3 separate regions of the Homo sapiens genome follow, and all the other regions are linked to region 3. Evidence: fine-mapped QTL for protein levels in blood plasma. Region 3 holds a variant in brackets. A gene starts in each other region. All regions are shown on their forward strands. Region 1 holds the start of CLPS (colipase). Region 2 holds the start of PLA2G1B (phospholipase A2 group IB). Region 3 holds the start of AQP12B (aquaporin 12B).

The links. PIP is the posterior inclusion probability: the model's chance that the variant is causal. Protein levels are from antibody-based Olink assays in UK Biobank. Linkage for the fine-mapping came from a reference panel and not from the study's own genotypes, which makes the PIPs less certain.
Region 1: it holds the start of CLPS, and the variant in region 3 is fine-mapped to the plasma level of the CLPS protein (UK Biobank, PIP above 0.99).
Region 2: it holds the start of PLA2G1B, and the variant in region 3 is fine-mapped to the plasma level of the PLA2G1B protein (UK Biobank, PIP 0.98).

The regions. Positions count from the first base shown.
Region 1 is chr6:35,790,132-35,800,530 of GRCh38, forward strand. It overlaps CLPS (colipase), which reads right to left and starts at 7,192. Exons shown (of 3, transcript NM_001832.4): 1 at 7,074-7,192; 2 at 5,600-5,722; 3 at 4,851-5,146. The coding sequence starts at 7,157. The coding sequence ends at 5,015. It also overlaps a transcript of CLPSL1 not described here.
Region 2 is chr12:120,321,636-120,332,034 of GRCh38, forward strand. It overlaps PLA2G1B (phospholipase A2 group IB), which reads right to left and starts at 6,144. Exons shown (of 4, transcript NM_000928.3): 1 at 6,085-6,144; 2 at 4,226-4,385; 3 at 3,299-3,426; 4 at 480-682. The coding sequence starts at 6,118. The coding sequence ends at 558. RefSeq lists an enhancer at 4,041-4,100.
Region 3 is chr2:240,677,607-240,688,005 of GRCh38, forward strand. It overlaps AQP12B (aquaporin 12B), which reads right to left and starts at 5,279. Exons shown (of 3, transcript NM_001102467.2): 1 at 4,625-5,279; 2 at 2,746-2,862. The coding sequence starts at 5,231. It overlaps LOC285191 (a long non-coding RNA gene), which reads left to right and starts at 8,728. Exons shown (of 3, transcript NR_149021.1): 1 at 8,728-10,215. The variant G/A (reference allele first, on the strand shown) is at 4,788.

The DNA.
Region 1 (10,399 bases), not on the chromosome of region 3:
CACCATGTTGCCCAGGCTGGTCTCAAACTCCTGGCCTCAAGCAATCCTGCCTCAGCCTCTCAAAATGCTGGGATTACAGGCATGAGCCACTGTGCCCGGCTGAAATTTCACTTTTTTCCAATATTGGATATTTTCATCCAGGAATATAAAATGCTTTAAAACAAAGTTGTTAATTTTTTTAATAAACGTTTTTAGCCTAATAAGGAAAAAAAAGAAACAAAAAAGAAAGGGAGTTGGGGAAGATACGTTGCTGACATGACTAAACTGGTTCCAAGTGTTGGGGGAGGAAAACTTTTCCTCTATCCTCTTAGGTTCAGTACTTGAAGGCCTGAGAATTAAACCGATAAAAGAGAAATGACCGATTTTTATTCAGAATGTAGGGAAGTTCATGGAAGAGTGTGACTCTAGAAGGAAGTTAGAATTTGCGGGTTATGTACCATCTCAATAGAAGAAGGGGAGGAGGAGAAAGGACACTTATAGAAAAGTAATTTTTAGGAAAGATGAATGGGCCCTTAGGAGAAAAGATGGGAGCTATTATAGTTTCGTGACCTGACTGTTTAGGTGTGGTGCCAACTATTCTCCCCTCCAGCAATAAGTCAATTTTCCCTGGTTTTGAGAAACTCCTGGGAGGGGGATTTATGACAATGGAGCTCTTTTGCAGGGCTCTGCATTTAGGCAGACAAAGGAGTTCAGAAAAGAGCCTATTCTCATCCAGCCTGGGCAGCATTGCGAAACCCTGTGTCTGAAAACAAACAACAACAGCAACATAGCCGGTGGTGGCACGCACGTGTAGTCCTAGCTACTTAGGAGGCTGAGGCAGGAGGATCACTTGAGCACCAGGAGGTTGAGGCTGCAGTGAGCCATGGTCGCACCACTGCATTCCAGCCTGGGTGACAGAGCAAGACTCTGTCTCAAAAAAAAAAAAAAGAAAGAAAGAAAAGAAAAAGGCCCATTTTCAAATGCCTTCTGCTCAGAATAATTTTTATGCTTCAGTGGCATTCTCTAGACCCCTTCACAAGCCATGGGGATTCCGCTGCCCTATGGGAAAAGTGGTCATTGGTAGAGGCTGCCGTTGTCAGAATCCAGAGAGATTTGTAGGGAATAAAGTACAGATGCTCCTTGACTTACGATGGGGCTACATCCTGATAAACACATTGTTTAAGTTGAAAATATCGTAAGTTGAAAATACGTTTAATAGGCCGGGCACGGGGGCTCACGCCTGTAATCCTAGCACTTTGGGAGGCTGAGGCAGGCGGATCACAAGGTCAGGAGTTCGAGACCAGCCTGACCAACATGGTGAAACCCCGTCTCTACTAAAAATACAAAAATTAGCTGGGCGTGGAGGGCACGCCTGTAATCCCAGCTACTCGGGAGGCTGAGGCAGGAGAATCACTTGAACCCGGGAGGCGGAGGTTGCAGCGAGCCGAGATCGTGCCATTGCATTCCGGCCTGGGTGACAGAGTTAGACTCTGTCTCCAAAAAAAAAAAAAGAAAAAGAAAAAGAAAATACATTTAATGGGCAGGTGTGGTGGCTTGTGCCTGTAATCCCAGCACTTTAGGAGGTTGAGGTGGGCGGATTGCTTGAGCCTAGGAGTTTAAGACCAGTGTGGGCATCATGGTGAAACCCCATCTCCACTAAAAATATAAAAATTAACTCCGGGCATGGAGGCTCACACCTATAATCCTAGCACTTTCGGAGGCCTAGGTGGGCAGATTGCCTGAGCTCAGGAGTTCGCAACCAGCCTGGGCAACATGGTGAAACCCCATCTCTACTAAAAATACAAATAAATAAATAAATAAATAAATTAGCTGGACGTGGTGGCATGTGCCTGTAGTCCCAGCTACTCGGGAGGCTGATTCAGGAGAATTGCTTGAACCTGGGAGGCAGAGGCTGCAGTGAGCCGAGATCGCACTATTGCACTCCACTCTGGGCAACAGAGACAGACTCCATCTTCCCCCCGCCACAAAAATAAATAAATAAATAAATAAATAAATTAGCCAGGCATGGTGGCACACGCCTATAGTTCTAGCACTTGGGGAACTGAGGTGGGAGGATCACTTGAGCCCAGGATGTCAAGGCTGTAGTGAGCCATGATCATGCCACTGCATTCCAGCCTGGGTCACAGAGTGAGACCCTGTCTCAAAAAAAAAAAAAAGTATTTAATACACCTAACCTACTGAATATCATAGCTTAGCTTAGCCTACCTTAAATGTGCTCAATCAGAATGCTTACATTAGCTGGGAAAAATAACACAAAGCCTATTTTAGAATAAAGTGTCGAATATATCTCATGTAATTTATTGATGTTCTACTGAATGCATATTGCTTTTGCACCATCATAAAGTTGAAAAATTGTCAGTCAAACCATTGTAAGTGGGGACCATCTGGTTCCTTGAGCTGTGGTTAGACTGTGCCTCTGCTGTGTAGGCGTGTGATGCTGAAAAGCAGCAGAAATTGAGAGTCTACAGGAGCACTGGCCGTTGGAAATAAAATGGAAGCTACATAATGGTTGGGGTCTTGGTCACTTGCTTCTGCAGAGCCCAAAGCCCAACTCCCTACTCACTTTTGAAGACCAGGGACATTTTCCTTATGCCCCCCACAGTCCAAAACACGGTGCCAGGCACACTGTGGTCATTCAGTGAACACATGAAGGGGACATGAATGCAGATCTCCAGGACCGAATGTGGCACCAAGAAGCGTGACTCAGCCCTGCTCAGGGCCTGAGACCCCTCCTGGGTTAAGGTATTGAAAGCTCCTCTTGTTGAGCACATAATTCATATGTGGCAGACACCATTACCTGGTTTCCTAATAGCCATTGCCCCCTTCCCTGCCAACTGAAACCCAATATTGTTTGGGCATCAATGAACCTGGCCCCAGGAGAAGGATCTTATTCCCTTTGCTTTCCCAGCGTCCCTTGCAGCTAGAAGTAGTCAGATAACCTAGTTCTAGCCACTGAGATATGAAGAGAAGTCGGCCTTGAGGATTTGAGGAAAGATAAGAAGAGGGTATGGTCCAGGTGCCATGGTTCATGCCTGTAATCCCAGCACTTTGGGAGGCCGAGGCAGGTGGATCACCTGAGGTAAGGAATTCAAGATCAGCCTGGCCAACATGGTGAAACCCTGTCTCTACTAAAAATGCAAAAAATCAGCCAGGCGTGGTGGCAGGCGCCTGTAGTCCCAGCTACTTGGGAGGCTGAAGCAGGAGAATCGCATGAACCCAGGAGGCAGAAGTTGCAGGGAGCCGAGATCGTGCCACTGCACTCTGGCTTGGGCAACAAGAGCAAAACTCTGTCTCAAAAAAAAAAAAAAAAAGGGTATGCAAGAAGAAACTCTCTGCTCCTTCTCCCGCCTTCCCAGCTGCCAGCTACTCCATGCTTCCTGCCTTCGAATACGGTGAGAACGTGAAGTCATGAGCTGCTGCTAAGGCATGTGGCAACCTTGAAGAGAAGGTCAAGAGCTACCAGCCACCAAAAGAATGCCAGCACTTCCTGTGTCTTTGCTTTGGATTCATGAGAAATATACGTTCCTATTTGCTTCAGCCATAATTACTTGGGTTTTTCTGCTACTCACAGTTGAATGCAATCCTAACTCATAAGCCTGTGGTTACAGGAGGATTCATTGATCACAGAACTGCAAGATCCTGGGGCTGGGACGACATCGAAGTTTCATTCAGTTCACTGTCCCTCACTCTCTGTGGGAATCTCCTCTCTAGCATCTCCACCGAGGGGTCAGTGAGCTTCCACCTGCGTACCTGGATGATGGGCACCTCAGTACTGCCTAAGGTAACTCATGTTTGATGGCTCCAGGGGATATACAATTTTTATATTAAGGCAAAATTAAATTCCTTGCAGTTTCCACCCATTTTTCTTAATGCGAATAATTGGGAAAGAAAAAGGAATCATAAGGCCGGGCACGGTGGCTCATACCTGTAATCCCAGCACTTTGGGAGGCTGAGGTGGTGGATCACCTGGGGTCAGGAGTTTGAGACCAGCCTGGCCAACACGATGAAACCCCGTCTCTACTAAAAACACAAAAATTAGCCGGGCGTGGTGGTAGGCGCCTGTAATCCCAGCTACTAGGGGAGGCTGGGGCAGGAGAATCGCTTGAACCTGGGAGGTGGAGGTTGCAGTGAGCCAAGAGATCACTCCGCTGCACTCCAGTCTGGGCAACAGAGAGAGACTCTGTTTCAGAAAAAAAAAAAAAAAGGAATCATAGAAGCAGGGCAGTGGAGTTAGATGGTAGAGTGCCAACATTTTCTGATTATGTGACATTGGGCAAGCTCCTCTCTGAAACTTGGTCTCTATCTATAAAGTGGAGATGAGAAATTCTCCCTCCTGGGATCCTTGTGAGCATTTGCTGGCAGAGAGTAAGCTCATAGCAATTGAGAGTGGTCTGACCCCTTAACACATGAGTTGTGTCAGCTAGCTGTCATATTTGAGAATTGTGTCCAGAAAAGAGGTGAGAGCCCAGGATTCTGATGCCTCTGATGCAGGGTGACGAACATGGGCCATTAAAACTCCTTACCCACAAGTGTGTGTGTGTGTGTGTGTGTGTGTGTGTGTGTATGTGCGCGCGCATGCACATGTGCCCGCTTGTCTCTTTGAGAACCGGAGGGACAAGGAGGGCATCCCAGGTAGGTGTGACTTCTCCCCAGAAATGGAGGGTTTCCTAGGCTGGCTGGGTCTCCTTCACAGCTTTGTCTTCAGTCTCCAATCTGTTTGGCCACAACTTCTTCAGCCCCAGACCCATCCCTTGTTCTTCTGACCTGCCTGAAGCCTGCCCTGGTGGACCAAAGGCCTGATGCAACTTCAGAGAAGATGCTGAGTCAGAAAGAATATGCAGGAGACTGGGAAAGGTTTGCAGGAGGCCTTTAATTGTGAAGAGCGCAATCAGAAAACAGATATGCTGGTCAAGGAGGTGGCCAGCCCGGGAGATGCGCTGGAGCAGGGGAGAGATGCCCCTGCGCCTAGTGGCCTACAGCATTCTGGGCTAGGTGTGGGAGTGGGTGGGCAGTCTCACTGCTTGGAGCGTCCAGCGTCATGGCAGATGCCAAAGTTGGTGTTGGTGATGGAGCCCACGATGGTCTTGTCTCCCTCACAGGTCAGGCCACGCTCACAGGGACACTTGTAGTAAATCCCATAGAGCGTCTGCAGAGACACAGCCAATGGAGTCAAGGCTATGGGGAGATACTTTGGACATCACTTGTCCCCTGCCTGACCTAGAGAACCAGTAGGCCAGCCTGTGTTTTCGGGGAGTGCCTCTCCCACCTGCCTCCCCAGGGGTGCCGTGGGCCCTGGAGACCCCAGCTCTGACCTCTGCTCTGGCTCATTTGCTCTTACTAGCTTGATCTCTCTGGGGAGCCTCTATTTACCCAGCCATGAAATGGGGATAACAAATCCCCACCCCCACCCATCTCACTGGTCACTCGGGAGGGTCAAGAGAGATGATGGGATGGGAAAGTGCTTTGACACCTGTCGACCTCCCTCTCGTCTCCTCAACATTCAGTGTCCAGGCTGACCCCCCTCCCTGATCCCACTCACAAGTGTTCAGGGCCCTACTCCCCATTCTCCCCCACCCACGCCAAGTCCTCAGGCACCCACCTTGACAGAGCACTCGCTGTTCTCGCTGGCCATGGATGTGCAGCGGGCCAGGCCCAGCGCACTTGAATGCTGGCAGCAATTGCTCTTACACTGGGCACTATTCATGCAGAGCTCACCGTTCTCCTGCCAGGAGCAGCCAGTCAGCCCAGGCCCCACTCCCTCAGGTCCCTTCTCCATTCAGACCTGTACCCACCACACACTACCACTAACAGTGTCTCCCCTGGTAGGGATGTGTGTGAAGGAGTCCATCCCCTGGGTCTGGTGGCCTCTGTGCCCCCCACCCACGTGAGAAGTGGGCATGCGGTGACAGAGAAGCAGACTTGCACAGAGGGTCAGGACCCCTGGGTTCTAGTACCGGCTGTGCTACCAACCTCCTGTGTGACTCTGGGCAAGTCACTGCCTCCCAAGCCTCAGTGTTCCCATTTGGAATGTGCACACAAGGCCCCTAGACAAGTTCTCCAAACCACTCTGGGTCCCACACCTCTTTAAGGAGGCGGTGAAGATTGCATCTCCCTGCAAGACTCCTTCCTCCCCCAACAGATCTGATCTATAATCTCCAAGGGTCCTGGACCTCCAAGTCCAGCCATGGCCCCAAGTTAAGAGAGTTCAGAACCTTTCAACCGCATGGACGTTCTGGAAGGGCTTTCCCAGCCAAGACCCATGGTGGAGAGGTGGTGTGGGGCAGTGGTGGGGCCCCAGCTGAACCACTTTCCAGCTATGTGACCTCAGGCAGGTTGCTCACCCTCTCTCTGTCTGAAGACAGGGCTGACTCTGAAAACACCTCCCTCAGTGGTTATTATGAGAACAGAATGAGTAAACATCTCCGAGGCATCTCCATAAGTCAGAAGCTGGAATGATTGGCGCAAAGCATTTTCTCAGGATGGAAGCCCAGGGCTCTGGATTTTTACAAAGCTCCCTCGTAGGGCCAGGTGAGGTGGCTCATGCCTGTAATCCCAGCACTTTGGGAGGCCGAGGTGGGCGGATCACGAGGTCAGGAGTTTGAGACTAGCCTGGGCAACATGGTGAAACCCTATTTCTACTAAAAATACAAAAAATAGCTGAGCGTTATGGCAGGCACCTGTAATCCCAGCTTCTTGGGAGGCTGAGGCAGGAGAATCATTTGAACCCGGGAAGCAGAGATTGCAGTGAGCCGAGATTGTGCCACTACACTCCAGCCTGGTGACAGAGCAAGACTCCGTTTCAAAAAGAAAAAAAAGAAAAAAAAGGTCCCTCATAGCCAGGTTGAGCTGCTGCTCTGAGCATGCTCCAGTTGGAGCTGGAGAGGGGCTGATCAGCCTTTCCTGTGGCCTCTGGGAAGAGGCATAGGACAGGACATGGAAGTAAACAGAGGGATGCAAGATGCCACTCCTCCCAGCCCCTGCCAGTCCAGGTGGAGACATCAGAGGTCAAGGTCCAAGCTTAGGAAGTCTTCATCTGGGGACTCAGGAGGCGCCTCCCCTGAAGACCCTCTTACCAGGTTGATAATGATCCCCCGGGGGCCAGGAGCTGCATAGGCCACAGAGAGGGCGACAAGCAGGAGGATCAGGATCTTCTCCATGGTGAGTGGGACAGCTGGTGTGGGTGGCGGGAGACAGAGCCAGCTGTGGTGATGGGGCTATAAAAGGGGCCCTGACCTCACGAGATCCACCTGCATCCCACAGGGCTGGCCGTGGGCAGAGGCACAGCTGTGGCCAATCTGCTGTGGGGCGGTTCCTGATAAGGAAACTGGGTGAGTACCTGGTGGCCTTTTTCGTGTGTGTGTGTGTGTGTGTGTGTGTGTGTGTGTGTGTGTTGGTGATAATTGTGTTGCATCGTGGTTAAGAGTATGGACTGTGTACAAGTTATTAGTGAGGCAAACTTACTATCTGTTCCAACTATTCTGCCTTTCATCTTATCTGTCAACTAAGGATAATTTAAAGAGTTGTGAGGGTTGAATTAATACACATTTATGTGTTACATATATATAAACATTATTATATACAATTATAAGAATATATTTATATTGTATATTCCCATATGCCACATAAGCAGTGGGTAAGGGTGGCTGCCCTTGTGTCTTGAGCTCCTGGGCAGTGCCTGGACGAATCCAAGGCAAGAGAGGCACCTATGGTGTGAGTGCCTGCTTACATTCTGTGTACTTGGGGCCTCTCTGCCTCACTATAGTCAGGCCTTGCCTTTGGCCCACCCAAGCCCAGGTGTCTAGCAGTGTCAGACTCCAGGGACGAGGATCCTAGCCTCCCACCCCTCAACCTTCCTTCAGTCTCCTCGGGGGATTCCAGGCCATGCCCAGATCCCTGGGGCTGACAGTTCTGCAACCCCCAGCAGGCCAGGGTGTGTGTGCTTTCACTTTGGCACCCTCCCCCTGCCCTCACACCAGGGGCTGCCTGCAGGCCTGACTCAAGGGCCCTTAGGAGGCCCTTCCTAAATGCCTCTCTCCCCTTTCCTTTCTACCTCACTTACTATCTGCAATTCCAGCATCAGATACTCACCCCTTTAGTTAAGGTTTCCACTCACGCTGCCCCCTACCCAAGGCCACGTGCGCGCGTGAGCAGTCGCTAGTCCTGGCTGAGAATGAAGAGGTCTCATGAGCCTCAGATGGAGCAGGGGCCTCAGGAAGCTGGGAAGGGCACAGCTGCCTGAGTTTGCTCAGGCATGGGAACAGAGCAGCTTTTCCTGAAGGACTAGTCATGGCAGCCAGAGGCCCCTGCCCTTCCCCTCTCCATCCCAGGAGGTAGAAGACAGCTCCACTGAGAGGCCCAGGCCTCAAGCACAGCTTTTAATTTAATTTAATTTAATTTTTTGAGACAAGGTCTCACTCTGTCACCTAGGCCGAAGTGCAGTTGTGCCATCTTGGCTCACTGCAGCCTCCACCTCCTGAGATCAAGCAATCTTCCCCCTAAGCCTCCCAGGTCTAAAACTCGTGGGCTCAAGCAATCTTCCCACCTCGGCCTCCTAAAGTGTTGGGATTACAGGTGTGAGCCACTGTGCCCAGCCTCAAGCACAGCTTTGATCCAGACCAAGCTGGCTTCAAAATTCAGCATTTACTGGAGCTACGTGGCCTCAGACACATTATTGAAAGTGAAGCTCCCTGAACCTCACTTTCCTTATTTATCTTAGGGGGATAACGCCTCCTACTTCCTGAGGTCATGATTAAGACAATGCACGTGGAACACCTTCGGAAGTGCCTGGCACATGGTGGGTGCCCAGCCATGTAATATGACCCCCTTCCTCTCACCTTTACATCCCTGGGGTGTGGAATGTAGAGAAATAGCTGGAGGAACAACCAGGAGACTCTCAAAATGAGAAAAACCAATTTGGTTCCAGCGATGCAGAAATACCATTGATGAAAGAACACTATCCCCCCTCTCTTTTATAGAACTCAATGTTTGAAAGCACTTTTTCCTATGAGTTCACTCTGATCCTTCCTTCTCTTTTCTCTACCTGCTCCCCACCCCCAGGACCTCTGTGAGGTGAGCCACAGAGAAGGGAATCACTATTCCCTTCTCACAAGTCAAGATGGAGACTGGCAAAGGAATCAGAGGAGTGATTTCTCTCCATGAAGGGAGCTGTGAAAACCATCAGCCCTGTCCCTAGTTGGTCTCAGCCAAGCTTGCAAAGAAAAAAGGCTGGAGTTTTTTCCATTACAAATGAAGTGTAGCAAAGAGAACTTTGACACTGTATGTGCTTCTAAAAGGAAAGCAAAAATTAAGTACCTGTCAATGAAAAGAGTCAAACTCTGTACAATATTTGAATAGATTTATTCTGAGCCAAATATGAGCAACCATGGCCTGTGACACAGCCCTCAGGATGTAACCACTGAAGGGGTTCACCTTGCCCACTACCTAGATAGAGCCGATTCATCAAGACAGGGGAATTGCAGTGGAGAAAGAGTATTTCATGCAGAGCCGGCTGTGCAGGTGCAGGAGACTAGAGTTTTAGAGTTGTTGTTGCTGTTGAGACAGAGTTTCGCTCTTGTTGCCCAGGTTGGAGTGCAATGGCATGATCTTGGCTCACTGCAACCTCCGCCTCCTGGGTTCAAGTGATTCTCCTGCCTCGGCCTCTCGAGTAGCTGGGATTACAGGCATGTGCCACCATGCTCGGCTAATTTTGTATTTTTAGTAGATATGGGGTTTCACCATGTTGGTCAGGCTGGTCTTGAACTCCTGACCTCAAGTGATCCACCTGCCTCAGTCTCCCAAAGTGCTGGGATTACAGGCATGAGCTACCATGCCCAGCAGGGAGCAGAGTTTTTGAAGATAACTTGGTGGGTGGGGGGAAGCCAGTGAGCCAGGGGTGATGATTGGTCAGAGATGAAATCATAGGGACTCAGAGCTGTCTTCGTGCACCCAGTCAATTACTGGGTGAGGGCCACAAGATCAGATGAGCCAGTTTATTGATCTGGGTGGGGCCAGCTGATCCATCAAGTGCAGGGTCAGCAAAATATCTCAAGCACTGATCTTAGGAGTAGTTTAGGGAGGATCAGGATCTTGTAGCCTCCAGCTGCGTGACTCCTAAACCATAATTTCTAATCTTGTGGCTAATGTTAGTCCTACAAAGGCAATCTAGTCCCCAGGCAAGAATGAAGTCAGCTTTGGGAAAGGGCTGTTACTGTCTTTGTTTAAACTATAAACTAAGTTTCTCCCAAAGTTAGTTCAGCTTACGCCTAGGAATGAACAAGGACAGCTTGGAGGTTAGAAACAAGATGGAGTCACTTAAGTTAGATCTCTTTCACTGTCTCAGTCATAATTTTGCAAAGGTGGTTTCAGAATGAGGAGAAAACAAAGAAAATGACCCCCTTTT
Region 2 (10,399 bases), not on the chromosome of region 3:
ATCGTTAATCATTACTCAGGTTTCAAGGTGCTTGCTTGCTTCCTGGAAGTGTCTTTCTAATTCAACTTAGCTTCCAAGGCTGGAAGAAATGATACTCACAAAAGACTAGGCAGAGTAGCCAGGCGCGGCGGCTCATGCATGTAATCCCAACACTTTGCGAGGCCGAGCCAGGCAGATCACTTAAGCTGAGGAGTTTGAGACCAGCCAGGGCAACATGGCGAAACTCTGTCTCTACAAAAAATACAAAAATTAGCCAGGCATGGTGGTGCATGCCTATGGTCCCAGCTACTCGGGAGGATGAGGCGGGAGGATTGCTTGAGCCCGGGAGGCGGAGGTTGCAGTGAGGCAAGGTGGCATCACTGCACTCCAGCCTGGGCCACAGAGCAAGACTCCACCTAGAAAAAATAAATACATAAAAATAAAAGAGTAGGCAGAGACCTAGTTTATAGACAGAGAATAAAACAATATCCAAACATGAGGTCTTTCAACAAGGTGCTTTATTGGAGAGTACAGTGTGAGATGAGGCAGATAGAGGTGATGCTTTTGAGAGGTGATATTCAACTCTGACAATACTTCTTGGTGTCCAGGTTCTTGTGTGCCTTGTTATATGGAGCTTTTGAAAAGCAGATGGCAGCGTTGCGGTCGCAGTTGCAAATGAAGGCCTCACACTCTTTGTTTTTGCCTGGAGAGGGATGAAAGGAGAGGACTGAGCCAAGGTGGACCCTGTTTTGTACAATCTGGGGCAAGAAGAATTAACTGGAATAAGCTGGCAGCCATTCCACTGATGCACATTTAGGGCTGACAGATTAAGTGAATACAAGTACATCAGGATGCCCAGTTAAATTTGACTTTCAGATAAACAATGAATGCAATATTTGGGACATATACCCCCCAAAAAATTATCCATTGCTTATCTGAAAGTCATATTTATCTGGGCATCCTGTGTTTTTTTGTTTTGTTTTGTTTTTAAGACGGAGTTTCCCTTTTGTCGCCTAGGCTGGAGTGCAGTGGCGTGATCTCAGCTCACTGCAACTTCTGCCTCCTGAGTTCAAGTGATACTCCTGCCTCAGACTCCTGAGTAGCTGGGACTACAGGTGCTCGCCACCATGCCCAGCTAATTTTTGTATTTTTATTAGAGAGGGTGTTTCATCATGTTGTCCAGGCTGGTCTCAAACTCCGGACCTCAAGTGATCCATTTGCCTCGGCCTCCCAAAGTGCTGGGATACAGGCGTGAGCCACCATGCCCAACCTAGTTTCTCTACTTTAAAGCATGTATTTTAAAAATTATGGAACATCCTTAAATGGAATACTACATAGACATTTAGAAAAATTAGGTATGCCTGCACATGGAAATTTTCCCAAATAAAAAAAGCTAGTGTATGCCCCAAAAATCTGGAGGAATATGTAACTGGTTATCTTTGGGTAGTAGGATTATAGATGCCTTCCACTTTCCATAATAGATATTTATGTAGAGTTTGAAGTTGCATTACTTTTGGCTTGTTTACTTTTATAACCAAAATAAACAATAAGATTACAGTTAAAATGCATTTAAACTTTATTACATATAATTTACGTATCTCTGCTTACCTTCAGGAATCTTATTAGTTTTGTTTCTCTCCGATCCTTTATTTTATTTATTTATTTTTTTGAGATAGAGTCTCGCTGTGTCGCCCAGGCTGGAGTGCAGTGGTGGGATCTCGGCTCACTGCAACCTCTGCCTCCCAGGTTCAAGCAATTCTCTTGCCTCAGCCTCCCGAGTAGCTGGGACTACAGGCATGCATCACTACACCCAGCTAATTTTTGTATTTTTAGTAGAGATAGGGTTTCACCATATTGACCAGGCTGGTCTCGAACTTCTCACCTCAAGTGATCCACCCACCTTGGACTTCCAAAGTACTGTGGTTACAGGCTTGAGTCACTGTGCCCAACTGAGTTATTTTTAATTAATATGAACAAACATCCTCTAATGCAGGTTTCTTGTCTTAGTTGCAAACATTAAAAAAAAACTGTGTGTGAGTGTGTGTGTGTGTGTGTATTTCTCTGGGGAGAGGGTTCATAGCTTTCATCAGATTTGTAAATTTGGCCTTCTAAAGTGGAGCAGGAGGATGTATAAGCAAATTAAGCCATATTATTCAGTGACTAAAATAGTAACAATGAAAAAACAGTAACAATAAAGGTTTGAGGCAATATGAAAAAGTCATAACAAGGTGATAAGTGAAAAAGCAGAATGCAAGATTGTATTTATTCTGCAAAGTTGTCAAGATTGTTTTAAAAAAAGAAAAAGAAAGTTTATATCTAGGCTGTGCATTCATCAATTATTTATTGAGCACCTACTATATGTCAGACACTGCTCTAGATCTGGGGATATAGCAATAAAGAAAATAGACAGTAATCGGCCAGGCACAGTGACTCACGCCTATAATTCCAGCACTTTGGGAGACTGAGGCAGGCAGATCACTTGAGGTCAGGAGTTTGAGACCAGCCTGGGCAACATGGTAAAACCCCATCTCTGCTAAAAATACAAAAAATTAGCCAAGCATGGTGGTGCACGCTTGTAATTCCAGCTACTCAGGAGGCTTAGGCAGGAGAATCGCTTGAACCCGGGAGGCAGAGGTTGCAGTGAGCTGAACGGAGGTTGAGGTGATGAAGTGAGACTCTGTCTCAAAAAAGAAAGGAAGAAAATAGGCAGTAATCCCTGTTCTGTGGATCTTACATTCTATTGGAAAGATGGAATGTAAAGAAATAAGTAGCCGCACATGGTGGCTCACCCCTGTAATCCCAGCACTTTGGGATGCCAAGGTAGGAGGATTGCTTGAAGCCAGGAGTTTAAGACAAGCCTGGCCAACGTAGTAAGACCCAGTCTCTACAAAAAAATTTTTTTAATTAGCCAGGCGTGGTGGTGCACGCTCGTAGTCCCAGCTACTTGGGAGGCTGAGGTCAGCAGATCCCTTGAGCTCAGGAGGTTGAGGCTGCAGTGACCTATGGTTGCACCACTGTGCTCATGCCTGGGTGACAGAGCAAGACCCTGTCTCTAAACAACAACAAAAAAAAACCCAAACTGTCACCACTTACAAGCTGTGTGATCTTGGGCAAATAGCTCAGCCTTCTGAGCCTCAGTTTTCTTATCTGTTAAGTGAGGATAATTGTACCTATCCCATAGTGTTGTTCTGAGGATTAAAGGAGACACTGCCCAGAACCAAGAAAATTAACACTAAATCATGGCTGTTGTTACTATTATTTCCCCCCGGCCTACTGAGAACCAACTAGAATTCATAGGTCAAGGAAGGGATAAACCTACTGCTACAGGTGATTGCCGAGCCAGAGCACGAGTATGAATAGGTGTGGGTGTACGGGTTGTCCAGCAGAAATTTACAGCTGTCCAGCTTCTTGGCCTGGTCATAGCAGTTGTCATGTGTCTGGCAGCACCTGGAAAGTGGGAGGGACAGCTGAGATAGGAGTAAGTGCAGAGCAATAGGTCAGCCCTCACCTGCCCACTCTCAGGAACAGGTGGGGATGACTTCGCCAAGATGCTTCAGGAGAAATGATCCTATGGCTTGAAAAAATATAAGTCCTTTTATCATATATTTATTGAAAGCATTTTTTTTTTTTGAGACAGAGTTGCTCTGTTACCCAGGCTGGACAGCAGTGACACGACCTTGGCTCACTGAAACCTCCAACTCAGTCTCCCAAGTAGCTGGGGTTACAGGCGCTCGCCACCATGTCCGGCTAATTTTTGTATTTTTTAGTAGAGACAGGGTTTCACCATGTTGGCCAGGCTGGTCTCGAACTCCTGACCTCAAGTGATCCGCCCGCCTCGGCCTCCCAAAGTGCTGGGATTACAGGCATGAGCCACCGCGCCTGGCCTGAAAGCGATTTTTAACATGGTTGCAAGAATACAGTAAAATCCTGTATTCAGAAGGTGCAGTGACAACCACTGCTAGAAAATGACACGTGGATAGTTGCTGTGATGTTTACTGTTGCTACATTCTGCCACTGGAGGGCAGCATCGCCCACTGTTTTGCACGTCGGTCATTGTTTCCATCTCTAACGGGGTGCGTTCGCTACAGGGTCCTCTTGGAACATATTTGTTTATTTGACAAGAGGTGAAAATATGTTATCCTTAGCAGATATGCAAGTCCCCTTTGTATGCCTCGTGAGATCCTTGGCGTGTGCCCCACCCCGCCCCCGGCAGGCACTCCAATTTTCCTGCAGGCGGATCACTTACTTGTCCAGTTCATCCACGGGGGTGCCTGAGCCCCCCAAGCCACAGTAGCAGCCGTAGTTGTTGTATTCCAAGAAGGGGTCACTCCCCGGGATCACGCACTTGATCATTTTGCGGAACTGCCACACGGCCCGAGGGCTGATGCCGCTGTCGGCGGCGGCCACTGCAAGAAGACATAGCCAGAGTTCAAATCGGTCTGCCAGCACCCCGGGGACACACTGCCTTCCTGCTCCCTCGGGTCCCACGCTGCCTCCCTGACCCCTGCCAGCTGCCTCCTCTGAAGACCGTTGGACCCAGGAACCTGGTAAAGTGAAAGTGGGTAGAGGTTTTTTTTTTTTTTTAATGAAAACTTTATATATATAAAGTTTATATCTTTGTGTGTGTGTATATATATATATATCTTCTTCTTTTTCTTCTTCTTCTTCTTCTGGGACCCTACCGCCTCAGCTAGGATTACAGGCATGTGCCACCCAGCTAGGCCTGATAGTTTTTTTTTTTTTTTTGAGATGGAGTCTTGCTCTGTTGCCCAGGTTGGAGTGCAGTGACACGATTTCAGCTCACTGCAAACTCTGCTTCCCGGGTTCACGCCATTCTCCTGCCTCAGCCTCCCTAGGTCAGATAGTTTTAAACTATCTGCACTGTTTATCCAGTGAATATTTATTGAGCACTTACTATGTGCCAGGCTCTGTCCTAGGAGCTAGAGATACAGCAGTGAACAGATATAATAATAATAATAATAATAATAATAATAATAATAATAATAATAATCTCTAACCTCATGGAGCTTACAACCTAGTGGGAGAGAAAAACAATAAATAATAAATGTGATAAGGCCGGGCACGGTGGCTCATGCCTGTAATCCCAGCACTTTGGGAGGCCGAGGCAGGCGGATCACAAGGTCATGAGATCGAGACCATCCTGGCTAACACGATGAAACCCCGTCTTTATTAAAAATACAAAAAAATTAGCGGGGCGTGGTGGCAGGCGCCTTTAGTCCCAGCTACTGGGGAGGCTGAGGCGGGAGAATGGCGTGAACCCAGCAGGTGGAGCTTGCAGTGAGCCGAGATCGCACCACTGTACTCCAGCCTTGGCGACAAAGCAAGACTCTGTCTCAATAATAATAAGAATAATAATAAATGTGATAAGTAAGGAAACTGGATACTGCATTAGAAAGGGGAAGAATAGAGCAGGATGAGGAGAATCTAAAAGGGAGGTCACCCAGCCTGGCCAACATGGTGAAAACCTGTCTCTACCAAAAAAAACACACAAAAAATTAGCTGGGCATGGTGGTGTGTGCCAGCTACTTGAGAGCTACAAGTCCCAGCTACTTGAGAGGCTGAGGCAAGAGAATTATTTGAACCCAGGAGATGGAGGTTGTAGTGATCTGAGATCACGCCACCGCACTCCAGCCTGGGCGACAGAGTGAGCCCCGTCTCAAAAATAAAATAAAGTAAAATAAAAATAAAAATTAAAATAAAATAAAATAAATGGGAGATTGGCCTAACTACTTAGTTGAGTAAGGTGGGAGGATCACTTGAGCCCACGAGTTGGAAGCTGTGGTGAGCTATGATCATGCCACTGAACTCCAGCCTGGGTGATAGAGCAAGACCCTGTCTGGAAAAAAGAAAATAAAGGCAAGCTTTCTTAGCTCAGGCAATCTGAGTTCAGACTTGCAGGTTGAAAAAGTGCCAGCCTTGAGGGAACCCCAATAGAGGAGCCCTTAAGCCCCACTGGGAACCTCGAATTGAGACTGCGGGGCTGGCCATCCCTGTTTGCTGTGGCCTGTGGCCCCCATTCCAGAGGAGTGAGATCTTAGCTCACTTGGGAGAGAAAGGCGGGTGGAGCCGGGGAGACTTGCCTACCTGTGAGCAGCACAGCTAGCACAAGGAGTTTCATCTTGCAGTCAAGGTGAGAAAAGAACTGAGATGACCAGTCTCAGGTATAGTCTTATAGTCAGTCTCCACACAACCCTGCCCAGATAAGGCTGGAGTGTTTGCTTTGCTCTTGGCTGAGTTTGGGGCTGGCCTTGAATCTGTCTGTTGCAGGAATGACCCTGACGATTTGCCAGCATGGGATCACTGGAAAATATGTTATGCATTTGTCCTTAGCAACTGTTAACCAAAGGGATGGTTTCTGGAGTTTTCAGATCTTACAATCTTGACCCTCATACCCACCACTTTGTACTCAGCCCAGCTTCACGGGCTGGTTGGGGAAAGCAAAGCCGTCAGTTCAGTCGGACGCTGGGATAAGGGAGACAAGAAGGAAGTGCAGCCTGGGCAACATAGAGAGACCTCATCTCTAAAAAAAAAAATGTTAACCAGGTGTGGTGGTGGATTGCACCTGTGATCCCAGCAACTCAGGAGGCTGAGATGGGAGGATCTCTTGAGCCAGGGAGGTCAAGGCTGCAATGAACAGTGATTGAGCCTCTGCAGCAGAGTGAGACCCTATTTCAAAAAAAAAAAAAAAAAAAGAAAGAAAGAAAAAAGATCGCTGCCTGCAGCCTCAATGTCTTATCAAGTGCCTGAATCTGTGCACTGGGTCTGGTTGAATAGTCCCATCAGTCGTGCACCTTGCAGATAAAGAGACAGGTTCAGAGAGTTGCGGTAACTTGCCCAAGGTCACACAGTTGGCAAATGACAAAATAGGGCTCCAGTTTAGATCTGTCTGATTCCAAGGCAGAGGTTTTATTTTTTTCCACCACTCCGCTCTGCAGTGTGGGTTTGTGAGAAAAACCTGGGCTTTGGATTCCAAAGGCCTGAGTCTGAATTATAGAATACTAAAGGGCATTAGAACTGTCATATCAGAGGCCAGGCACGGTGGCTCATGCCTGTAATCCCAGCACTTTGGGAGGCTGAGGCTGGCAGATCACCTGAGGTGGAGAGTTCGAGACCAGCCTGACCAACATGGAATAACCCTGTCTCTACTAAAAACACAAAATTAGCCAGGCATGGTGGCTTATGCCTGTAATCCCAGCTACTCCGGAGGCCGAGGCAGGAGAATGGCTTGAACCCTGGAGGCGGAGGTTGCGGTGAGCTGAGATCACGCCATTGCACTCCAGCCTAGGGAACAAGAGCAAAACTCCATCTCAAAAAAAAACCTGTCACATCACATATCTATTTATTTATATATATTTTTTGAGACGGAGTCTTGCTCTGTTGCCTAGGCTGGAGTGCAATGGCGCGATCTTGGCTCACTGCAAGCTCTGCCTCCCAGGTTCATGCCATTCTCCTGCCTCAGCCTCCCAAGTAGCTGGGACTACAGGCACCCACCACCACGCCCGGTTAATTTTTTTTTTTGTATTTTTAGTAGAGATGGGGTTTCACCGCATTAGCCAGGATGGTCTCGATCTCCTGACCTCGTGATCCACCTGCCTCGGCCTCCCAAAATGCTGGGATTACAGGCGTGAGCCACCGCGCCCGGCCAAATATCTACATAACATTGTTTAGCTGAAATTCACATAACATTAACCACGTTTAAGTAAACAATTCGGGGGCATTTAGTACCTTCACAGTGTTGTGCAACCATCACCTCTATGGGGTTCCAGAACATTTTTATCACTCCAGAAGGAAACCCTGTACCCATTAGCAGTCACACTCCCTCAGCCCCTGGTAACTGCTAATCTGCTTCTCTCTCTCTCTCTCTTTTTTTTTTGAGACAGAGTTTCGCTCTTGTCGCCCAGGCTGGAGTGCAATGGCACGATCTCGGCTTACTGCAACCTCCGCCTCCCAGGTTCAAGCGATTCTCCTGCCTCAGCCTCTCGTGTAGCTGGGAATTACAGGCGCCTGCCAGCATGCCTGGATAATTTTTGTATTTTTAGTAGAGACAAGGTTTCACCATGTTGGTCAGGCTGGTCTCAAACTCTTGACCTCAGGTGATCCACTCCTCAGCCTCCCAAAATGCTGGGATTATAGGCATGAGCCACTGTGCCTGGCCTCTGATCTGCTTCTCTCTATATAGATTTATAATTGGTTAACTTGGTGCTCTTCTGTTCCTATGTCACCTCTACAACAACCCTGTGGGATAAGGAGGGCCTGGTTATTTAATTTATTTATCTGTTTTTTTTTTTTGAGACAAAGTGTCGCTCTGTTTCCCAGACTGATGTGCAGTGACACGATCATAGTTCACTGCAGCCTCAACCTCCTGGGCTCAAGCAATCCTCCCACCTTAGCCTCCCGATTAGTGGGGACTACAGACATGTGTCACCACACCTGGCTAATTTAAAAAAATTTTTTGGGCCAGGCACGGTGGCTCATACCTGTAATCCCAGCACTTGGGGAGACCGAGGCAGGCGGATCACGAGGTCAGGTGATGGAGACCATCCTGGCTAACACAGTGAAACCTTGTCTCTACTAAAGATACAAAAAATAAGCTGGGCATGGTGGCGGGTGCCTGTAATCTCAGCAACTTGGGAGGCTGAGGCAGAAGAATGGCGTGAACCCAGGAGGCAGAGTTTGCAGTGAGCCGAGATCACGCCACTGTACTCCGGCCTGGGCGACACAGCGAGACTCTGTCTCAAAAAAATTTTTGGAGACACGGCGTCTCCCTATGTTGCCCAGGCTGGTCTTGAACTCCTGGCCTCAAGTGATCCTCCCATCTAAGCCTCCCAAAGCATTGGGATCACAGGCGTGAGCCACTGTGCCCAGCAACCTTGATAGTTTTGAGGAGTATTGGTCAGGATGACCCTCTCTTGGAATTTGTGTGTGTGTGTGTGTGGGTGTGTGTGTGTGTGTTTGTTGTAGTCTCACTCTGTCGCCCAGGCTGGAGTGCAGTGGCACAATCTCGGCTCACTGCAATCTCTGTCTCCCAGGTTCAAGTGATTCTTGTGCCTCAGCCTCTGAGTAGCTGGGATTACAGGCACGTGCCACCACGCCCAGCTAATTTTTATTTATTTATTTTTATTTATTTTTGAGACGGAGTCTCACTCTGTCACCAGGCTGGAGTGCAGTGGCGCGATCTCAGCTCACTGCAACCTCTGCCTCCCGGGTTCAAATGATTCTCCTGCCTCAGCCTCCCGAGTAGCTGGGACTACAGGTGCACACCACTGCGTCCAGCTAATTTTTGTATTTTTAGTAGAGACGGGGTTTCACCATGTTGGCCAGGATGGTCTTGATTTCTTGACCTCATGATCTGCCCGCCTCAGCCTCCCAAAGTGCTGGGATTACAGGCGTGAACCACTGCACCTGGCTCTCTATTGGAATTGTCCTGTGTTTTTCTCATAATTAGATTACAGTTATGGGTTTGGGGGAGGAAGACCACAGAGGCAAAGTGCCATTTCATCACATGGCTGCTTTATGTTTAATCATCTCTTTTCTGGGCCGGGCGTGGTGGCTCATGCCTGCAGTCCCAGCACTTCGGGAGGCCGAAGCGGGTGGATCACCTGAGGTCAGGAGATCGAGACCATGGTGAAACCCCATCTCTACTAAAAATACAAAAAATTAGCCGGGCGTGGTGGCGGGTGCCTGTTGTCCCAGGTACTCCCGAGGCTGAGGCAGGAGAATGGCGTGAACCCGGGAGGCGGAGCTTGCAGTGAGCCGAGTGCCACTGCACTCCAGCCCGGGTGACAGAGTGAGACTCTGCCTCAAAATAAATAAAAAAAAAATAAAAATAAAAATGAAATACCATTAAAAGTTCAGTTTCTCAGTCACAATGGCCACATTTCAAGGCTCATAGACACATGTGGCGAGTGGCTGCCAGATTGGCAGCCACAGAATGTTTCCATGATCACAGAAGGTTCTGTTGGACAGGGCTGCTGTGGATTGTCACAGAGCCTGTCTCAGGGCTGCCCCATGGGAGGTGGGGGCTATGAGGACTAATGGAGGGGGACTTGGTTAGGTCAGAATCCCACATCAGCTTGACTGAATGGTCCTGCCTCTGCAGCCCCAGAATGAGTGGAGTCTGCCCAAGCAAAGGGAAGCCTTGCCCAGCAAAATGTTCAGTCCCTCTTATGTGGGTTCCTTGGGGTCATAACAAGACAGAGGACCAGGCACTGCTCCTAGGTTTAGGCCTGAAGGATGCTAAGTGGGTGATTGGGGGTGGCTCAAAGAAGGAGAAGCAGCTATGGTTGCAAGTAAAGTTATTAATTACCCTTTTTTTCCAGGCTGGAGTGCAGTGGTGCAATCTTGGCTCACTGCAACCTCCACCTCCCAGGTTCAAGTGATTCTTCTGCCCCAGCCTCCT
Region 3 (10,399 bases):
GGGGCTCCTGGCTGCAGCCTTGGAGCTCCCCAGGGCTCATGCTGATACTGAACTTGTGGATAAAGGGGTTAATGGAAGGACACAAGCCTGTTTTTCGGTTTCCTGAAGCTGCCCTAAGATGACAGGAAAGGGATGCTGTCAGAGGTGTCAAGCATCCAGATGGATGAGACGGGAAGAGACGCAGGAGCACAGCGTGGGGCTGACAAGCATGTGGACGACCAAACACTGCTGACATGGAGGGGCCGGATCGCCCCTCCGCAGGGACGAAAGCTGGGAAACAACCCAGTTCTTCCGCAGATGCCCCATGCTTTCAGAAGCTGGCGCCCGGGTCCCTGTGGGATGGGGTGGCCCTGGGACTCGCCTAGGAGGAGGGACGGCAATTCCGCATGGGAAGCTCCAGGGCCCCAAACCCCAAAATACAGAAGCAGCCAGTGCCCCCCTCCCTGGCCCTGGCAGGAGACAGGTTCCTCTCTAGAGGGGGCATGTGGACTCGAGTATCAGGCCCGCCCAAGCCTGGAGTCCCGCCTGAAACACGGATCCCAGCCTCCTCCTACTTGGCTCCTAGAAGCCGCAAATGCCCTTTGGGCTTCTCCACAGAGGCAGTTCTACAGTGAGAGGTTGCAGCCGGGTGAAGAGTATTTCCCCAGCGACACGCCCTTCCCAGAACACAGGATGTGCCCTTGTTAGAATACGGCCTGGGACATAAAATCAGTGAAATCACGGTGACGTCATACTTGAGTAGAGTGAACCTCCAATTCGATGACTGGTGTCCCTATATGAAGAGAACAGACAATGACACAGAGGAGGCGGCCAGGGGAACCGGCAGACATGGGAGTGCTGCGTCTCCAAGCCCGGGGACACCGGGGGTGCCAGAGGCCCCCGGAGCCCGGAAGAGGCAGGAGGCTCCTCCCCAGCAGCCTCCGAGGAGAGCTGACCCTGTCAGTGCTGCCAGCTCAGACTCCAGCCTCCAGAGCTGGCTGAGCATACAACCCTGTCACGTGAAGCCTCTTCGTTTGCGTCCTTTGCCTTGTAGCCCGTGAAGCCACCACAGGCCATGGTTGGGGCCTGAGAAACTCAGGACGAAACTGAGCTCCCACCCGGAACCCTGCCCAGGCCTCACCGACACTCAAGTGCAGGTCAGAACCAGGACACTATTTCAGACACAGGAGGTCTGAAGTGTACCTGCCAGGTCCCCGTTCTCAGGAAGCTACTGTGAGACGGGCACCAGCAAAAAGAAGGAATCAACCGAAACAGGAGGCGATGAGGAAAGCAGGAAACAGAAATACAACCAGGATCAGTGAAGGGCAGCACCATACCGGAGATGGACGCCTGCGGGTAACCCGGAGCTGCGGATCCTCGGGGGAGACGCTGCCCACACAGAGCACTGGTGCTGAACTAAGGAAAGCACCCAGAAGCCTGGGCAGGAGAGAGTCCAGGACCTCGTCACCCGCAGGAAGCAAGGCCTGTGCAGGAGCGGAGAGGCCTCCGGGGCCACCACAGCTCACCCGGGCCGTGTTTCCATGCCAGGGAACTAGAGGGGGCTCTGGAGCTGATCAGGAGGAAGAGGCCGACCCACCCGGAGTGAAGGATCCGCAGGAGGAGCGTGGGGAGGCAAGGAAAGAACATCCGCCCCCCACATCCCAGGAGACAGCCCAGGGTTGATACCTGAACTGAAGAGTCTCGGAGAAGCCCTGCAGGCCCAGTGTGTGGGGACAGAGAGGCCAACACGGAGCTGTTCCTAGCAGAGGGCAGTGCTGCCTCGGCAACGGGGGCAGGAGGGGGTTCCTGATGCACTTCGTATGCTTCCTAGGACCCTGCACATGCCTGAGAGACTGTGACCACATCAGAACCATGGCGACAAATCACGATGACGTCAGTGTCACCATCGCAGGGCCAGGTGCCTGAGAGACCCCCAGCTCCTGTCTTTCCCCCCAAGGGGAGGCTGAGGCATTGCCCCTGAGACCTCCCCAGTGTAGAGCCAGCAGAAGCTGAAAAAAGCTTCCAGAATTCCATAGGAACCCAGCTGCCCTTCTGGTACCTCAGTGAGGTGGAGCCGAGTGTCTGAGAGCAGGTGCAGGAGAAGGTGTGGGCTCCACCTGGGCCTCTGAAGCCAGGGGCCAGAATCCCCAGATCTAGGTCCAAGAGGGGGCTCCATGACCTCCCCATGCTGCTCCTCTGCTTGGATCCAGGATATAAGAAAGGAGGGGCACACACTGTGGGGGAACTCTGGGGTCCCCTGTGTGCATCAGCGAGTCCCGGGTCTGCCCCACCAGGATGCAAAGGGCCTGGCTGCTCCAGCCCCATGCTCACAGCCCTATAAGTGCACGATGGCACCCTATATCATCTAAGCGGGGCTCTCTGCCTCCTGAGGCTTTAGGGACACCAGAATGAGCCCCCCTCGGCGGAGTCTGGCTCTGGGTGTGTGGAGATGCCACCTGGGACGGGAACCCCAGGTGCATGGAGCCCCACTGCAGACACCATCCCCCGTGTGCCCAGCACCCCTTGCAAGGTTGGCCTTTCCCCAGCCTGTGGCCTCCTTACCTGGCTGCAGCTTGCTCGGCACCGGGACGGTGTCCACAGTGAGACATGCCGTCACAGCCCCTACCCCCCAAACCATGCCCACTGCAGAGACCTCCCCAGGAGCACTGACCAGGCACCCTCACCTCCACCCTGCAGGACCCCACGTGCCAGGATGCTCTGTGGGCCCCAGCAGCCCTAGGGACCCCACCCTGCCCCTGCCCTTACCTGTCAGAGGGCCCAGCCAGTACACCTGCACGTACTCCAGTAAGGTGTGTCCCGAGCAGGCAAAGGTCACAGAGGCGGCCAGGGCAGGGTTGAAGAAGGCAGACGTGAAGGGCCCGGCTGTGGGCAGAGCACAGACAGCCCTGGTCCCCAGCCCTGCCTGACGCCCCTCTGCAGGCCAGGACCTGATCCCCGCCACCGAATCCACACCGAGAGCCCCACTGTGTGCAGGCCTGGGAGCTGCTCTCGGCTCCTGAAGCCCCGCCTGGTCCCCCGCACCGATGGACACACGATGCAGCAAGGCCGGGTCAGCCAAGGTCTGGGTCAGGGGCAGCAGCTTGGGGGCCCCCCAGGGCCGTCCAACACCCTCGCGACATCTCACCGGGATCCCGTGCCCCGCCCATGCTGCCCTCCAGCACCCCACCCTGTGGGATGTGGCCTTCGAGAAAGACGGACAGAGAGAGATGGAGAGAGACACTAAGAGAGACAGATAGTGAGAGAGAGACAAAAAGACACAGAGAGAGACAGGGAGACAGAGAGAGAGGAGAGACAGAGAGAGAGAGGAGAGACAGAGAGAGAGAGGAGAGACAGAGAGAGAGAGGAGAGACAGAGAGAGATCTCAGAAATAAAGGAGCAGCAGCAGAGGAGAGAAGACGACATGGCTGTGCGATGTGAGACAAGGGAAGGCGGCGGCAGCCGGGCCGCTGTCCTGCAGCCCCAGGCCTGGGTGACCACCCCAAATAACAGAATCCACCAATACCGGGGACCTGCCTCTGGGCACGGAAGAGCAGGGAGTGGGCCTAGCGGAGGGCAGGGACCACAGGGACATGGAGTCTGCGGCCGCCCAGGTGTAAACCAGGACCCTGAGGATGGGCAGCTCCGTCCCTGAGACCAGGCGCCCTGTGCCTCGTGGAGGCAGGACCCTTGACGGGAGCTCTCCGGTGCCACCCAGGACAGAGGCCCGGGCAATCTGCCACAGAGCCGTGTCCCTGCAGAGCTCCCGCTCACCCGTGCCTCAGTTTCCCCAACTGTACGGGGCTCTGGTGGCACCTTCCTGTGGCCTTTGTGGTCCAGGTTCCGTGGTGTCTGCCCAGTGCTGGGTCGTGGGCAGTGCCATGGACCTAAGTGCTGGTCCTGTCCTGATTAGGACCTCGGACCCCCGGAAGGAGACCTGGCACCATTCTCCCTGCAGCCCTTCCTGTGGTGCCTGGAGCACGAGCCGGCTCCCCTGGCTCTCCCTGCAGCCCCAGCGCTGTGGACACCTGTCCTGGGAACTTGCTGAGCAAAGGCTTTCGTGGTGGTGGAGCCTAGCGCTCGGAGGGGAAAGCAGACATGGGGGACTGGATCAGACGGAGGGTCTGAGTGGAGGGAGCTCACAAGGGGGTGATGGGACCATGAGAGCTGGGTGCCACGGTTGGTCCAGGTGCAGGCAGAGATCGCAGGATGCAGGTGTCAGTAGGAGGCCAGGGAGGCCAACTGGGGCAGGTGAGACAGGACCTGTCGCTCTGGAAGGGGTGATAGAGGGTGCAGGGACTCCCACACCAGACCAGGAAACTGGGCTGGGCCTTGAATCGTCTGCCTCGGCTGTCCCTACTACCCCAGAGGCAGAACTTCTGGGAGGACCAAGAATAGCTGGGACTGGGGAGAGGTGCAGTGGGCAGGATGGCCCTGGCAGGGGACAGGCTGCTCCACCGCACCCCATGTCCAGCGCAGGCCCTCGTCTACCCGCCAGATCCCAGGAAATCACCGCCTCTTCTTGTGGGTTTGTTGGCCACCCGGGCCAGCAGCCCCCTATCCTGGGTGCAAACGGGCCTGAGTGTGCATGGAGGCCACACAGGTGAGAGGTCCTCAGGGGCCCAGGGGAAGGGGAAGCAGTGCTCACCCGTGTAGGCCGTGACGGTGACCAACAGAGCCACAGCGGGCCCGCTGTAGGCGGGAGGACTGTGCCGCAGGTGCAGGAGGGTCAGATGGAAACAAAAGGCGCAGGCGGCCTCCACAAGCGCCCCGTGGGGCACGGATGTGCGCAGGGCCGAGCTGCAGCTCTG[G/A]GCCATGAGGCTCTGCAGCAGGTGCAGGTCACTGAGCTCCCAGGCCCAGCAGAGGCGCGTCAGGGTGCAGGCGGCCTGCATGCCCAGCCCCTGTGCCGCCAGCTTCAGCAGCGTGCCAGGCAGAGACTCCTCGGCCATGAGGAACTCCTGCAGGGACACGGTGGGGTTGGCCGAGGCCCCGTCCAAGGTGACCCCGTGCGCCAGGAAGAGCAGGAAGAGCAGGGTGAGCAGCAGGTCAGGCCCAAAGTCCCCAGCCCAGGGCCCGAGCTCGACCAGCGTCCTCATCTCCAGGAAGCAGGCCCCGAGCTGCACCGCGCCCACCGCCTCCCGGGCGAAGACTTCATAGGCGCCCACTGGGAGCAGGGCCTTGGAGGCCCGCCTGGCTGCCTCACAGAGGGTGAAGGTGGCAAAGAAGAAGGAGAGGGACACGTTAAGACCTGCCATCGGCCTGGGCCCCCCGAGATGCTGTGCCTGCAGGACACCTGAGGGGACAGAGCAGGAGCTGGCCGGTTCCCACAACCCAGAGGGCCCAGGCGTGTGGGAGAGGGCACCTGGGCCTCTGGGAACACCACAGCTGCAGCCCCAGCTCCCGCCCCACTGGCTGCCACCCAGGTGCACAGCCAGGATGGCCACAGGGGCCCTGCCCCACAGCCTGGCATCATCCCGTCATGTGACACACCCGGATCCACTGGCCACGCTCGGCCAGCCCTGGGCGCTGGAGACTGGCCCAGCTCTTCAGAGCCTCCATCCGAGCTCCGCTCCTCCTACCTGCGCTCTTGGGTACCGGACCCCAATACCTGCTCCCTGCACCTGGCCCCTCTTGAGTCAGGGTCTCCCAGATCCTGCACCCCCTCCAGGTCCCTGCCTGAACAAGGGCCCCCATTTCCGCCTCCCTGCATGGATGCTGTGTCCCCATCTCAGTGAGGGCCCCAGGCTTATTGCACCTGCACTGTGTCCCCACTGGGGTGAGACCCCCACTGAACCTGCACTGTGTGTCCGCCTGGGAGGCCCCTCATGGCCCCTGCACCTGTTCTTTGACCCAGCCTAGGTGAAGCTCCCTCCTGCCTGCACCTGTAGATGTCTTCCCTTGAGTGAGTGCCCCCTGCTCCCTGCTCCTGGCTGTGTCCCCAGCTAGGCCAGGCCCCCTGCACGTGGCTGCGTCCCTGCCTATGGGAAGGTCCTCTCATTCTTGGCTCCCTGCACCTCCACTGTGTCCCCACCTCAGCAGGGACCCCCAAGCTTGTTGACCTGCCTGGGGTCTGGTCTGGGTGAGACCCTCCTCCACCTGCTCTGTGTCCCCTCTGGTCAAGAGTTGGCAGCAGCCCTTGCCCCAGCCCCACATTCCCTGCCCTGTACTGCCCTCACCTGCCCTCAGGAGAACTCAGGACCACGCCTCACATCAACGTCCCTCCCACCTTCCCGCCCCGAAAGCGCTTTCCAGAGATGAAAACCGAAAGTGCCATCGCCATTCACTTGAATTTCCTGCAGAGGGGCCAGCTACCCACAGCTGCGTGGAGAAGGCGCTGAGCCTGGGCGTCTGCAGTGGGAGATAGCTGGGCTGGGACCATCCAGAGCTCCGGACCCCGAGGGGATGGGACATGAGCCCTGTGGGCCCTGCGATGGGCCGTCTGTCACCCTGCAGCATGGATCCTGTCCACTGGGTCTGCACCCAAGCACTGGGACACCAGCCATGGCCATACGGGGTACAGCACGTGGGACCTGCTGGATGTCCCCCTCACAGCCCTTTCCCTCTCCCCCAGGACTGACTCCAGCACCCGAGGCCCTTCCCCCAACCTGGCCCAAAGCTCCCCTTTCTCTGAGACTTAGATTTCCTTTTGTTTTTGGAAACCCAGTTGGGTCCCACCTGGCGTCCCCCTGGCACAGCTGGGGAGACTGAGACCAGGAGGGAATGGACCTGCCTGAGGGCACAGAGGAGGCAGCAGCTCGCAAAACAAGGGGCGATTTTGTTTCAGTTTTGACCTTTCCAGTTCTGGGGTTCAGAATTTCCTCCAGTTAGGGAAGGTGTCTGGTCGCCTCCAAGGAGGAGGGGAGGCCCCAGGCTCTTCGACTCCCACAGGAAGATTGCCTGTCCCCCTCCCCAACCCGTCCACTGACCTCTCCCCAGAAGGCAGAGAAACCCCGGTTCCAGTAGGGCTGTGGCTGCCTTCGGTTGCCTGTTCCCTGTGCAAGTGCCCTGCCCTCTCAGAGTAGCAGAGGAACCTTCTGGAAGCCATAGAAGCCTGGCCTCTGCACAGGGAAAAGCCAGGTTTTCCCTTGTGGGATCCTGTGGAGAATGAGCTCAGACGGATTCCTCATATTCTAATCCGACACCACTGGAGACCTTGACTCCTCCTTCCAGAACGGGAACCCCCTTGTCCAGCGTCACGGATACCGGGCCCCACAGTCTCCCTGCATCTGCATTGACCCTCCACGGAGCTCACAGCAGGGAGGGTCTGCGTGGTCCACCTCTACCCCACGCACAGGCAAACCTGAGAAGGAACGTTTAATCACCATTCACAGCCCTTGCTTCTTTCTAGAGAAATAAAACAAACTTACACCAGAATATGAAAACAACGTGAAACACACAAAAGTTAAGTGTGAGCCCGTGCACTGTGACAGGTGTCAGCAGCGTGAGTCTCGCCAGCGTCAGGAGCTGGAACGTCTTCATCATCCCCGAGTCCTCTGGTCCTCCCTGCCCTTCCGCAGCGGGAGGGTCCACTCTTGTGGGTTCCCAGTCCTCCCTGAACTTCCCCAGAGGGAGGGTCCACTCTTGTGGGTTCCTGGTCCTCCCTGAACTTCCCCAGCAGGAGGGTCCACTCTCGTGGGTTCCCGGTCCTCCCCGCCCTTCCCCAGCGGGAGGGTCCACTCTTGTGGGTTATGTGATTCTAGCTTCCCGCTTTCTGTCCGGAGCCTGCAGAGGAATGGGACCACGAGCTACACGTGGGTTGGACCTGCCTGTTTTGAGAGAGGGCCCTGTCCCTGAGGGTTCATATCCCTTGAACATGGTTGAGAGTTTTGTTCCTTTTCATTGCTGACTTGAAGCCATGTCATGAAGAGCCACAGCTTGGCCGTTTTTCTGATGATGCCCATGTGGGTGGATTTTAGTTCTTACTACTATGAATAAAGCTGCTGTTAGCATTTTGGTCTATTCTTTCTGTAAACGCAGACTTTTATGTCTTTTGGGTAAATTCCTAAAATGCCCCGGGTGAGCTATGTCCACTGAACAAATCCCACATCTATAAATTTGGAAAGAAGACTTTATTTCCTATAAAGGGGTAGGGCCTTCAGGGTGGCCGTCCTGACACCCTGGGCACCTCAGCCTCTGGCAGAGCCCAGGCCGGGCACCTGGAAGGAGGGGGTTGGGGCAGGAGCTTCATGCTGAACAGGTCGGCTAAGGACACACACTCCATGGGTTGCTGGAGGAGCCGTGAACATTCAGGAAGGGGTCCTCACTCATGCATACTGAACAAACATGCATGTGACATGCGTCTCAAGTTTCCTTGGGGGTGGACACGTGATATCTAAATGTGTTCCTGTGAGGCCCTTGCCTGGAAAGGTGAAGCAGCAACACCAAGGCACTCGTTGCACGGCCCCTGAAAACCAGCCAGAACCAGTCCCTGCTGGGTGGTCCCCAGTCAGAATTACAGAAATCAGCCTCTTGGCCAATCAAACTTAGGGCTGGTGGCACAGAAGAGTGGGGCTGTGTGTCAGCATCTGGAGGGGGTGAGCTGCACCTGAGTGAGTGTGGCTTTCCTAGTGGCCAGCGCTGGTTTAGCTGCTAGAGAAAAAGAACCCTCCTGGCCGGCAGCCCCTGGTTTCTGCTTTTCAGTGTCTTGTGCGTGACTCCACCCCTGCCAGGCAGGGCCTCAGGTCTTGTTGATCATTTGCTGTCTTATCACCACAAGGAACCTGTTTTGTCAGTCTCCTCTTTATGTTCACCTTCATGCTGGTGAGTGTGGTGTCCCAACCACAGACGGAGGGGCTGTCACGCGGCGGGTCCCACCTCCCACTCTGTCATGGCGGGATTTTTGTCATGTTTTTCAGATTTCTCTGGAATCCCCTTGGCCAAGAAGGGTCCATTCAGCTTGTTGGTGCGGGAGCTCAGGATTTCATTTTTAGTTCTCACATGGCAGGTGAGTGAAAACGTTATAAGGGACTATCCAAACCTTTCCCGAAGTGGCTGTAGTATCTTAACTCTCACCAGTCGTGTGTGACAGTTTTGGTGTCTTTAAAAGTCGGTGGTGTCAAGATTTCACAACTACCTCTTCTGCTGATTGTGTGGTTCTATCTGTTCGTGGCTTAAACTTGCATTTCCCTCATGACAAAAAGTGTGAAACCATCAGTCATGAACTGTCTGTCCATTCCAATCTCTTCTGTTCATTTTTAAAGTGGGGCTGTGTATCTTTTTATTGATTTATGATCATTCTTTCTATATTCTGGATACAAGATTTTTGTGTGGGATTTGTTTTGCAGTATCTCCCCAGACTTCCTGGTCATTTTCTTTGTAGTGTCTTTTGATAACTAGAGCATTTTCCTTCGGATAAAGCCAAATTGATTATTTTTAAATGTGCTTGTCACTGCTTTTTCCTCCCTGCCAGGAAGTGTTTGTGCACTCTCAGGTCACACAAGAGATGGTAATTTGTCAGTGAGCTGAGGAAGGCAGATCTGGCCTCAGCTATGAGGGTGGGTAGCACCCAGCCCATTGCAGACCCAGACTCCGGAGGTTCCTCTGTCTTCTTGGGCTGGGGCGTCCATCTCCTCCTGCCCGCAGACACAGGAGTTTCTGGGTCCCAGGCCTTGCGCTCTGGGACTGACACCAGCGGTTTGGGCTTGGACTGAATGACGCCACCCGCTGTTCGGGTTCACTGGCTTAGGGACAGCGGTTTGTGGGACTTCTCAGCCTCCGTGATCAAGGAGCCGATTCCTGTAATAAATCTCCTCCTAAACGTATCGCCCAGCAGCTCTGTTTCTCTGGAGAACCCTGACTCACATATGGGGGCCTAGAGGTTTGGTTGTAGCAGGCCCCAGGCCCTGTTCCAGCACCTGGCAGTACCCCCAGCTGATGGGCCCCAGGTGGGGAGGGACAGCCGGCCTGAGGGAGGTGCCTCCTGGGCCCCACCGTGGGCTCCCGTGCAGACAGGCAGGGTGGGGAGCAAGGACAAGGCTGTCCCCTCCTCTGGCCTCCGTCTACAGGTGGGACTTCTTTCCAGCCCTTTCTGTGGGTGGGGGGTGCACACGGGCAGGCCAGCCCCAGGCGCCCTCAGGACCGCACCCTAGGCCTGCCCTGGGGGGAGTGGGGATGGGGCTGGGGCCTCACCTTGCTCAGGACCCAACCCTGGTGCAGCTCCACTCCTGGCTTTTCGCCTGCAGGACAGAGGGGCCTGGAGTGGCCTGGCCCTGCCGTGGGCAGCATGGCGTGGGCATGCAGGTGAGGCCTGCCTGAGGTGCCCAACCCCCTTTCTGCCAGCTGGGGCTTCCAGGTTCAGTGGTGTGTCTTCCTGTCTGGCATTTCAGAGAAGGGCTCTGCAGATGTGGGGGCTGGCTGTGAGGACACAGGGAGCCTGGGAAAAGGGTGGGAGAAGGGTCCCTGTGGCCACAGGCCACCCGAGGAG